Homo sapiens: one gene and its partner. The protein of the gene in region 2 purifies or fractionates together with the protein of the main gene of each other region. This does not show direct contact. Each region holds a gene or a part of one and is shown on either strand. Other genes may lie near its edges. The genes, in order: SRGN and PRF1.

Region 1 (3,811 bases), 1.5 Mb from region 2:
GCTCCTCTTCACAATAACACCTCCTGAAAGGGCCACCCATGCCTGCCCCCTCCTTTCCTCACCCCCTCTGTGGCTGGACTTCTGTTCCTACACTCCACCCTGGTTGACAAAGTCACTGATTACTTCTCTATTTTCAGCTTACTTGATCCTTAATTGCCTTCAAAAACAGCTAACTGGGCCATGCATGTAATCCCAGCACTTCGGGAGGCCAAGGCAGGAGGATCACTTGAGCCCAGGAGTTCAGGACCAGCCTGCCTGGGCAACATAGTGAGACCCTATCTACAAAAAATAGAAAAATTAGCCGGGCGTTGTGACTCATGCTTGTGGTCCCAGCTACAAAGGAAGCTGAGGTGGGAGGATGGCTTGAGTCCGGGAGGGTGAGGCTGCAGTGAGCCATGATCACGCCACTGCACTCCAGCCTGCACAACAGAAGGAGGCCCTTTCTGTAAAAAAAAAAATGGTTGACCACTCCTTCCTTGAAATGCTTTTTTCTTGAGGCTTCCATGCCCTGCCTTATCCTGTTTCTTCCTACTTCTCTGGTTGTGCTTTTTCCTCTGCTCAGTATTTAACATGTTGGTGTGACCCTGGCTCTGGCCTGGGCCCCCTTCTCTATCTACATGCTTTCTCTCGACGACCTCCATCGGTTGCATGGGTTTAACTACCAAATCTGTGATTCTAGCTCCGACACCCCAGGCTAAAGTAGCCACCTGGTCACTCCCTATTACATTGGTCAATTTCATTTCTCTGTGCCACCTATGATTTTCCTGATTTATTTATTCACTTTTCATTGTCTGTCTTCCCCACTAAAATAAAAACTTCTTGAGAAGGGGCTTCATCGATCTGCCTCTGTTCTATCCCAGGCCCTCAAAACAAGGACCAGATATTCAACAAATATTTATTGAATGCGTACATGAATTAAAACTCTAATTGGTTGTATGCTGGTGGTTTATTATTTTCATGGAGGAAATGACTTGTAGGCTGTGACACTCAGCTTTTGTCTCTGATGCTTTGTTGCCCTGTTCTGTCACCGAGGGCTGTCGTCATTGCTCTGGCCATTTTGTGCTCTTTGAATTTCTAATCATCACACTCAACCCAGAAGGCAGCCTTACCTTTCAGCACTCTTCAGCTGAATGAGTGCAAGTTGGAGGCAGGGTCATTTTTTGATAGGAAATTGAATGTTTATATGCTGGTAAATATAAAGCTTAGCTTTTTACAAAGAATTTCTCAAAAGTGAGCTTTGTTGAAGCCCTGTAAATTGTTAGAACTTTTATGGAAATTTTAATTTAGGAAAAAATGTCATCTGTTTGGGCTGACTTAGTTGTTAGTTGTTTGTCCTTTCTTTTTTTTGGTGGAGGGTATGGAGTTTTGCTCTTGTAACCCAGGCTGGAGTGCAGTGGCGCGATCTCGGCTCACTGCAACCTCCGCCTCCTGGGTTCAAGCGATTCTCTCACCTCAGCCTTCCGAGTAGCTGGGATTACAGGCATGCACCACCACACTTGGCTAATTTTTGTATTTTAAGTAGAGACCGGGTTTCACTATGTTGGTCAGGCTGGTTTCGAACTCCTGACCTCAAGTGATCACCCACCTTGGCCTCCCAAAGTGCTTGGATTACAGACATGAGCCACCACACCCGGCCAAGAGGACTTCTTTTAAAAATGATTTCTTGGGCCGGGTGCAGTGGCTCACACCTGTAATCCCAGCACTTTGGGAGGTGGGTGGTTCACAAGGTCAGGAGTTTGAGATCAGCCTGGCCAATATGGTGAAACTCCATCTCTACTAAAAATACAAAAATTAGCCAGGCATGGTGGCGCACCCCTGTTGTCCCAGCTACTCGGGAGGCTGAGGCAGGAGAATCACTTGAACCTGGGAGGTGGAGGTTGCAGTGAGCCGAGATGGCACCACTGCACTCCAGCCTGGGCAACAGAGCAAGACTCTGCCTCCAAAAATAAAAATTAAAATGATTTCTTAAGTAAATTTCAAATATAGAATGTATATGCTAGTGATAACAAAATTAACACTGTTTATGCAAGTCTGCAATAGGTAGATGTGAAGTTGATAGGTGCAATAAGTATAGGCAAACACATAGGAACATTTGACCTGTTTTTTTGTTGATTTTAAAACATTGAATAATTGGGAAGCTTTTAAATCTCTTAATTTGAGCAACTAGATGGCTGTATTTATCTCCTTATATTAAAAAAACTATTATAATTATCTTTCCCACATATCAAACTCCACTGGTTTTTTTCCCATTTTTCTTTCATACTTCAGAAAGACGAGAATCCAGGACTTGAATCGTATCTTCCCACTTTCTGAGGACTACTCTGGATCAGGCTTCGGCTCCGGCTCCGGCTCTGGATCAGGATCTGGGAGTGGCTTCCTAACGGAAATGGAACAGGATTACCAACTAGTAGACGAAAGTGATGCTTTCCATGACAACCTTAGGTCTCTTGACAGGAATCTGCCCTCAGACAGCCAGGACTTGGGTCAACATGGATTAGAAGAGGATTTTATGTTATAAAAGAGGATTTTCCCACCTTGACACCAGGCAATGTAGTTAGCATATTTTATGTACCATGGTTATATGATTAATCTTGGGACAAAGAATTTTATAGAAATTTTTAAACATCTGAAAAAGAAGCTTAAGTTTTATCATCCTTTTTTTTCTCATGAATTCTTAAAGGATTATGCTTTAATGCTGTTATCTATTTTATTGTTCTTGAAAATACCTGCATTTTTTGGTATCATGTTCAACCAACATCATTATGAAATTAATTAGATTCCCATGGCCATAAAATGGCTTTAAAGAATATATATATATTTTTAAAGTAGCTTGAGAAGCAAATTGGCAGGTAATATTTCATACCTAAATTAAGACTCTGACTTGGATTGTGAATTATAATGATATGCCCCTTTTCTTATAAAAACAAAAAAAAAAATAATGAAACACAGTGAATTTGTAGAGTGGGGGTATTTGACATATTTTACAGGGTGGAGTGTACTATATACTATTACCTTTGAATGTGTTTGCAGAGCTAGTGGATGTGTTTGTCTACAAGTATGATTGCTGTTACATAACACCCCAAATTAACTCCCAAATTAAAACACAGTTGTGCTGTCAATACCTCATACTGCTTTACCTTTTTTTCCTGGATATCTGTGTATTTTCAAATGTTACTATATATTAAAGCAGAAATATAACCAAAGGTTAAGCTGTCTCGGATCTGTTGTTCTAAACCCAGGAAACAGTTATTTTTGGCCAGACGTTTCTCCAGAAGTCTTATCAACAAAACAACTTTAAACGTATTCTACAGTAAACACAAGTTTTGTAACCAGAATCAAATCATACTAACTAGCAAATGAAGAAAGCAATGATGCCTTAGCAAGAGGGTTATATATCTCAAAGCACTTCCTCACCTGAAAGATAGTTCCATCTCTGTTCCCCTTAGTTCTGAAAAGCCCCCTTACATCACCATCCTGGATTCTGTTCTGTACTGTCCAGATCCCAGCTCCAGAACTGAGTACTTACTCAAATTAATCTCCTCAGGAGAGAGCCACCTTGCCCAAGGTCATGCTGCTTTGCAGGGCAGCCTGCATCCAGTGACTGGCTGATGTGGGCATATCAAGGCCTGAACTCAGAATAGTCATACAGATTCAAAACTCCCCACAGGATCAGCTCCAGTTTTGCTGGGACTACTTTGTAGCTCAGTTTCTTCTTTACTCAATTTTACTTCCTTCCATTCCGCTCATAGGTTTCTATCCTGAGAGTGCTCCCTTAGAAATTTTCTGCTAGTTTCCATCTCAGAATTTGCTT
Region 2 (4,587 bases):
GCATTAGCCACTTCATAAGCCACTTGAAACCTGCCAAGTGTACATTTTATCATTAGCTGGAAGGATGTGTAGAATTCCAAAGTCCTCTCTTTGATTTTATAGGTGAGGAAACTAACGCTCAGAAAGGGGGTTGATATCTATCGCCGTGAGGCATACGGTAAGTTTCTGGTGAAGCTGGGATCAGAACCTGTTTAGACTTTGCCTCTCTTTTCCCGCAGATACTTTGCAGGACTTCTATGTCCCTCAAACCGGCCTTCCTGTCATGGTCAGGAAAGAAACTCCTCACAGCCTCAGCATCCAAGTCAGGCCATGGGTGACAGCTGGAAAGTGATCAGGAGGCTGCAGTTTCTAGAAGAGGGTGGGGACACTGCGGAGAGAAGATGGGGCCAGATTCCGAGAAGACAGCATAAGCCCCTGTTCCTGTAAGAGCAGGGACGGAAGCAGGGACATAAACGCAAGGGATGAGCCCCAAAGTGTGACCCATGAGACATGATGTCACATGTGGTCTGGAGCCTGCGGCCACTTCTTCCCATCATATACACAGTTATGAGAACAAGTTGTGAGAACCACCTCCTCCCTTACCCAGCTGCCCCCACCCCAGAAGCCGTGTGATTTTGCCCCCCAGTGCCCTGTGAGTCACTCCACCCATGGAAACCTCACCCCACCCTGACCTCAAGCAAGGCAGAGTGCAGAAGACATGTCCTCCGGTGCTACCAGACCACTCTCACCAGCACCCACGACCTCAGCAGGGCTGGAGCCAGCGTGGAGGCCACTGGCTGTCCTCACAAAGCGAGGAGCAGGAGCCCCTGTTCGAGGAACATGCTTGGAGTTCGGAGCCTGGGCTAGGGTGGGATGTAGGTTGAGCAGGAAGTGGATGGCAAGATTAGAGCAACATCTCTCTTCTCCCACTCAGGGAGGAGGGAATGGCCACAGGCTCTGACACTCAAGAAGGGCCAGGCACAGTTCCAAGCACTTCACAACAACCCCTAGGGTCTACATGACCTACAATCCCAATTGTTCAGTGAAGAAACTGAGGCACAGTGAGGCTGAAGAACCCTACCAGTCCACACTGCTGGTGCATAACCGAGCTGCCCAAGCCCCGGCGGTCTGGCGTGTAGGCCCATGCTCTGAGCCGCCGCCTCTGCTTGCCTCTTACATCCCACACATGCGATGCTGTGCATCAGAAGCAAGGAGATGGCCCTGCTGGCCTGTTCATCAACACCAGGGCCGAGTCTCAAAGTCCTCAGCGCCCCGCCCTCCTCCGCCTGTGTGCCCTGAGTCCCCGAGCCCCAGCAGCTCTACTCGGCAGATGAGCCTCTGGCCCTGCTGCTCGCTTCCTGAGGGCTGTCAGTGGGGAGCCGGATGAGGGCTGAGGACAGGGTGGGTGCTTGTGGGAGGGGAGAGCACAAAGGACCTGTGACCACAGCTGGGGGCGGGGCAGGAAGTAGAAGTGATGTGAGTGGTGGCTGGTGCAAGGAGCCACAGTGGGCTGCCTGGGGGGCTGATGCCACCATTCCAGGAGCCTCGGTGAAGAGAGGATATCCATCTGTGTAGCCGCTTCTCTATACGGGATTCCAGGTAAGGAGAGAGCAGGGATTGGGGGGCCTGGGGCCCTGGGTGGAGGGGAAGAGGCTGATGGAGCAGGAAGTGCTGTGACCTATAAGACAAGACACCTGGGTCACAGACGGTGCCCATCACTAACTCGCTGGGCAGCCCTGTGTCCACCCTGGGCCTCAGTTTCCTCATGTATGAAATGAAGAGGTAGCGTGCAGTTTCTAAGGCCCTGCAAGTGCTGACATTAAAGCTTCTAAGAAAGCTGGAAAGAGGCTCCCTGGGACAGAATACCATGAGAGTCAGGATGAGGGCTGAGTTCACTGGATTAGGGTTATGACTGTGCCCGCCTCCTAGCTGGGATGAGCCCAGGGCCTTTGAAGATTCCCCTGGCCTCTTTGCCTCCCTGGGGCGAGCCACGCTGCCTGAAATTCCACCCTTCAAGTCACACCTTTGGGCAGGGCAGGAGGCTCCAGCTATAATGGGGGCTCTCCATAGCCCTCTTGTCTCAGAACCTGTGGTACCCAAGGGCAAAGGCCTTTGAAGAGCTCAGCTTGGATAAGGTTAGGCTTGGGTAAGGTTAGAGAAAGGAGGTTCCAGATCATAAACAGGCCCAGGCAAGGCCCCAGAAACACCTTAAAATTAGGAAGAACCTTCCAGACAATCATTGTCCATAGTAGGCAATAGGGGGGCCCCTGTCACTGCCGAAGGCCACAGAGCTTGGCAGGGAGTGGCAAAGAGGGGAGGGGCAGCAAGAAAGGATCTGAAGAGCAACCATCGAGGCCTCTCCCCACACAAAATCCAAGGGTGTGGTCAGGTCTGCCCCTTTTTTTTTTTTTTTTTGAGGCAGAGTCTTACTCTATCACCCAGGCGGGAGTGCAGTGGTACGATCTTGGCTCACTGCAACCTCCGCCTCCTGGGTTCAAGCGATTCTCCTGTCTCAGCCTCCCAAGTAGCTGGGATTACAGGCACCCGCCACCATGCCCAGCTAATTTTTGTATTTTTAGTAAAGAGGGGGTTTCACCACGTTGGCCAGGCTGGTCTCGAACTTCTGACCTCCAGTGATCCACCTGCCTCTGCCTCCCACAGTGTTCGGTTTACAGGTGTGAGCCACCACACCTGGCCAGGTCGGCAGATTTTATTCTAGAATTCGGGCTGATGTTATTCCATAAAGCTCAGAGGGAGAGCCCCAAAGGGAAAATGAGAAGAATAGGTGCAATATAGGACCTCATTTCTCTTCCAATTCTGTTAAGGGCTCAGTGGGAGGGAGAGAGGTTAGAGAGAGTGACAGAGACAAAGAAACAGAGTGAGAGTCAGGGTGGGCAAAGGGTGGCTTGTTCTGGGGCCAAAAATGACACTTCTTCAGAATGAAGGCTTCCTCAGGTCCCCAGACCCCTCCCTAAACCTGCTACAGCTACTCTGTCCCCTCTTCTGTGGCCACAGCCCCCTCCCCACCACCCACAGTTGTGTCCTGGGGACAGAGCCATCCACCTAGATCCCCATTAGGCCTTAGGGAAATTCTAAAAAGGGGCTCCCCTTGGCTGGGCTTTTCCCCTCTCTGGGCCCATCTGTACAATGTGGGGGCTGAACCAGGCCTATAAGGGACATACCAGCTCTGACATTCATTGAATAATGACTTAAGAGATATCTCAGCCCCTCCCCTTCCATGTGCCCTGATAATCTGTGGCTGTGGGGGAAGGGAGCAGTCATCCTCCATCCCTCCACCCATGGCTTCCCAGAGCCCAAGTGCCCCCTGTCTCTGCAGCTCCATGGCAGCCCGTCTGCTCCTCCTGGGCATCCTTCTCCTGCTGCTGCCCCTGCCCGTCCCTGCCCCGTGCCACACAGCCGCACGCTCAGAGTGCAAGCGCAGCCACAAGTTCGTGCCTGGTGCATGGCTGGCCGGGGAGGGTGTGGACGTGACCAGCCTCCGCCGCTCGGGCTCCTTCCCAGTGGACACACAAAGGTTCCTGCGGCCCGACGGCACCTGCACCCTCTGTGAAAATGCCCTACAGGAGGGCACCCTCCAGCGCCTGCCTCTGGCGCTCACCAACTGGCGGGCCCAGGGCTCTGGCTGCCAGCGCCATGTAACCAGGGCCAAAGTCAGCTCCACTGAAGCTGTGGCCCGGGATGCGGCTCGTAGCATCCGCAACGACTGGAAGGTCGGGCTGGACGTGACTCCTAAGCCCACCAGCAATGTGCATGTGTCTGTGGCCGGCTCACACTCACAGGCAGCCAACTTTGCAGCCCAGAAGACCCACCAGGACCAGTACAGCTTCAGCACTGACACGGTGGAGTGCCGCTTCTACAGGTGAGAGCTGGGGCTAGGGGTGGGGGGCTGGAAAAGGCGCGGGAAACTCTGGGTGGTCTAGGAGCCCTGGAAAGGCAGAGTCCTCCAATCAAACTTGGAGGCTGCTTCCACCAGGAAGAAACTGCAATCCTGGCTCTCAGACTTCAGGTGATTCAGCCCTGTGGCCTCCTCTCATCCAGGAGGTCCCAAATCTGGGAGTGCCCAGTGAGACATCAAGTAGAGAGAAAGTGAGTGAGACCATGCCTGAGAGTCCCAGCAGGGTGCCATTTAGGTCTAGTGAGTACTGAACCCTGCCTTTCCTGGGCACAGCCAGCCTTCCACAGAGTCCTTCCTGGATAGGGACAGAGGCAGGAGACCTGGCCGGGTCATCCTTCCTCATCGCTGTGTGACCTTGAGCATCTCACTTCTCTCTGAGCTTCAATCATCCACTCAACCAATACTCACACCTGCCTGTGGCAGGGCCACACTGCTGAGCGACAGCAGTCACTACCCTAGCCCCTGGGAGTAGGAAGTATGGGACCCATATTCCACGTCTGAGAAAGGCACAGTGTTTGTAGGCCAGACCCAAGTCACCTGGTCTGATTCATCAGACCTGGGGGCCACGTTTCCTCCACAGAGAGGCCGAGCATGGCCCAAGCTGTCAGGATCCCGGGCATGTGGGACCCATCCAGGGGGACGGATGGATGAAGGCCACATGACTAGTTCCAAAGTTCGACAGATACCATCAG

Evidence for each region.
Region 1: the proteins of PRF1 (region 2) and SRGN purify together in Homo sapiens (co-immunoprecipitation; one study listed by IntAct). This does not show direct contact.

The regions. Positions count from the first base shown.
Region 1 is NC_000010.11:69,101,603-69,105,413, forward strand, and holds the end of SRGN (serglycin isoform 1 precursor), read left to right. Parts: intron 1-2,268; coding exon 2,269-2,518; 3' UTR 2,519-3,203; downstream 3,204-3,811. UniProt on the Homo sapiens protein: Plays a role in formation of mast cell secretory granules and mediates storage of various compounds in secretory vesicles. Required for storage of some proteases in both connective tissue and mucosal mast cells and for storage of granzyme B in T-lymphocytes.
Region 2 is NC_000010.11:70,599,636-70,604,222, reverse strand, and holds the start of PRF1 (perforin-1 precursor), read left to right. Parts: upstream 1-1,481; 5' UTR 1,482-1,578; intron 1,579-3,290; 5' UTR 3,291-3,320; coding exon 3,321-3,859; intron 3,860-4,587.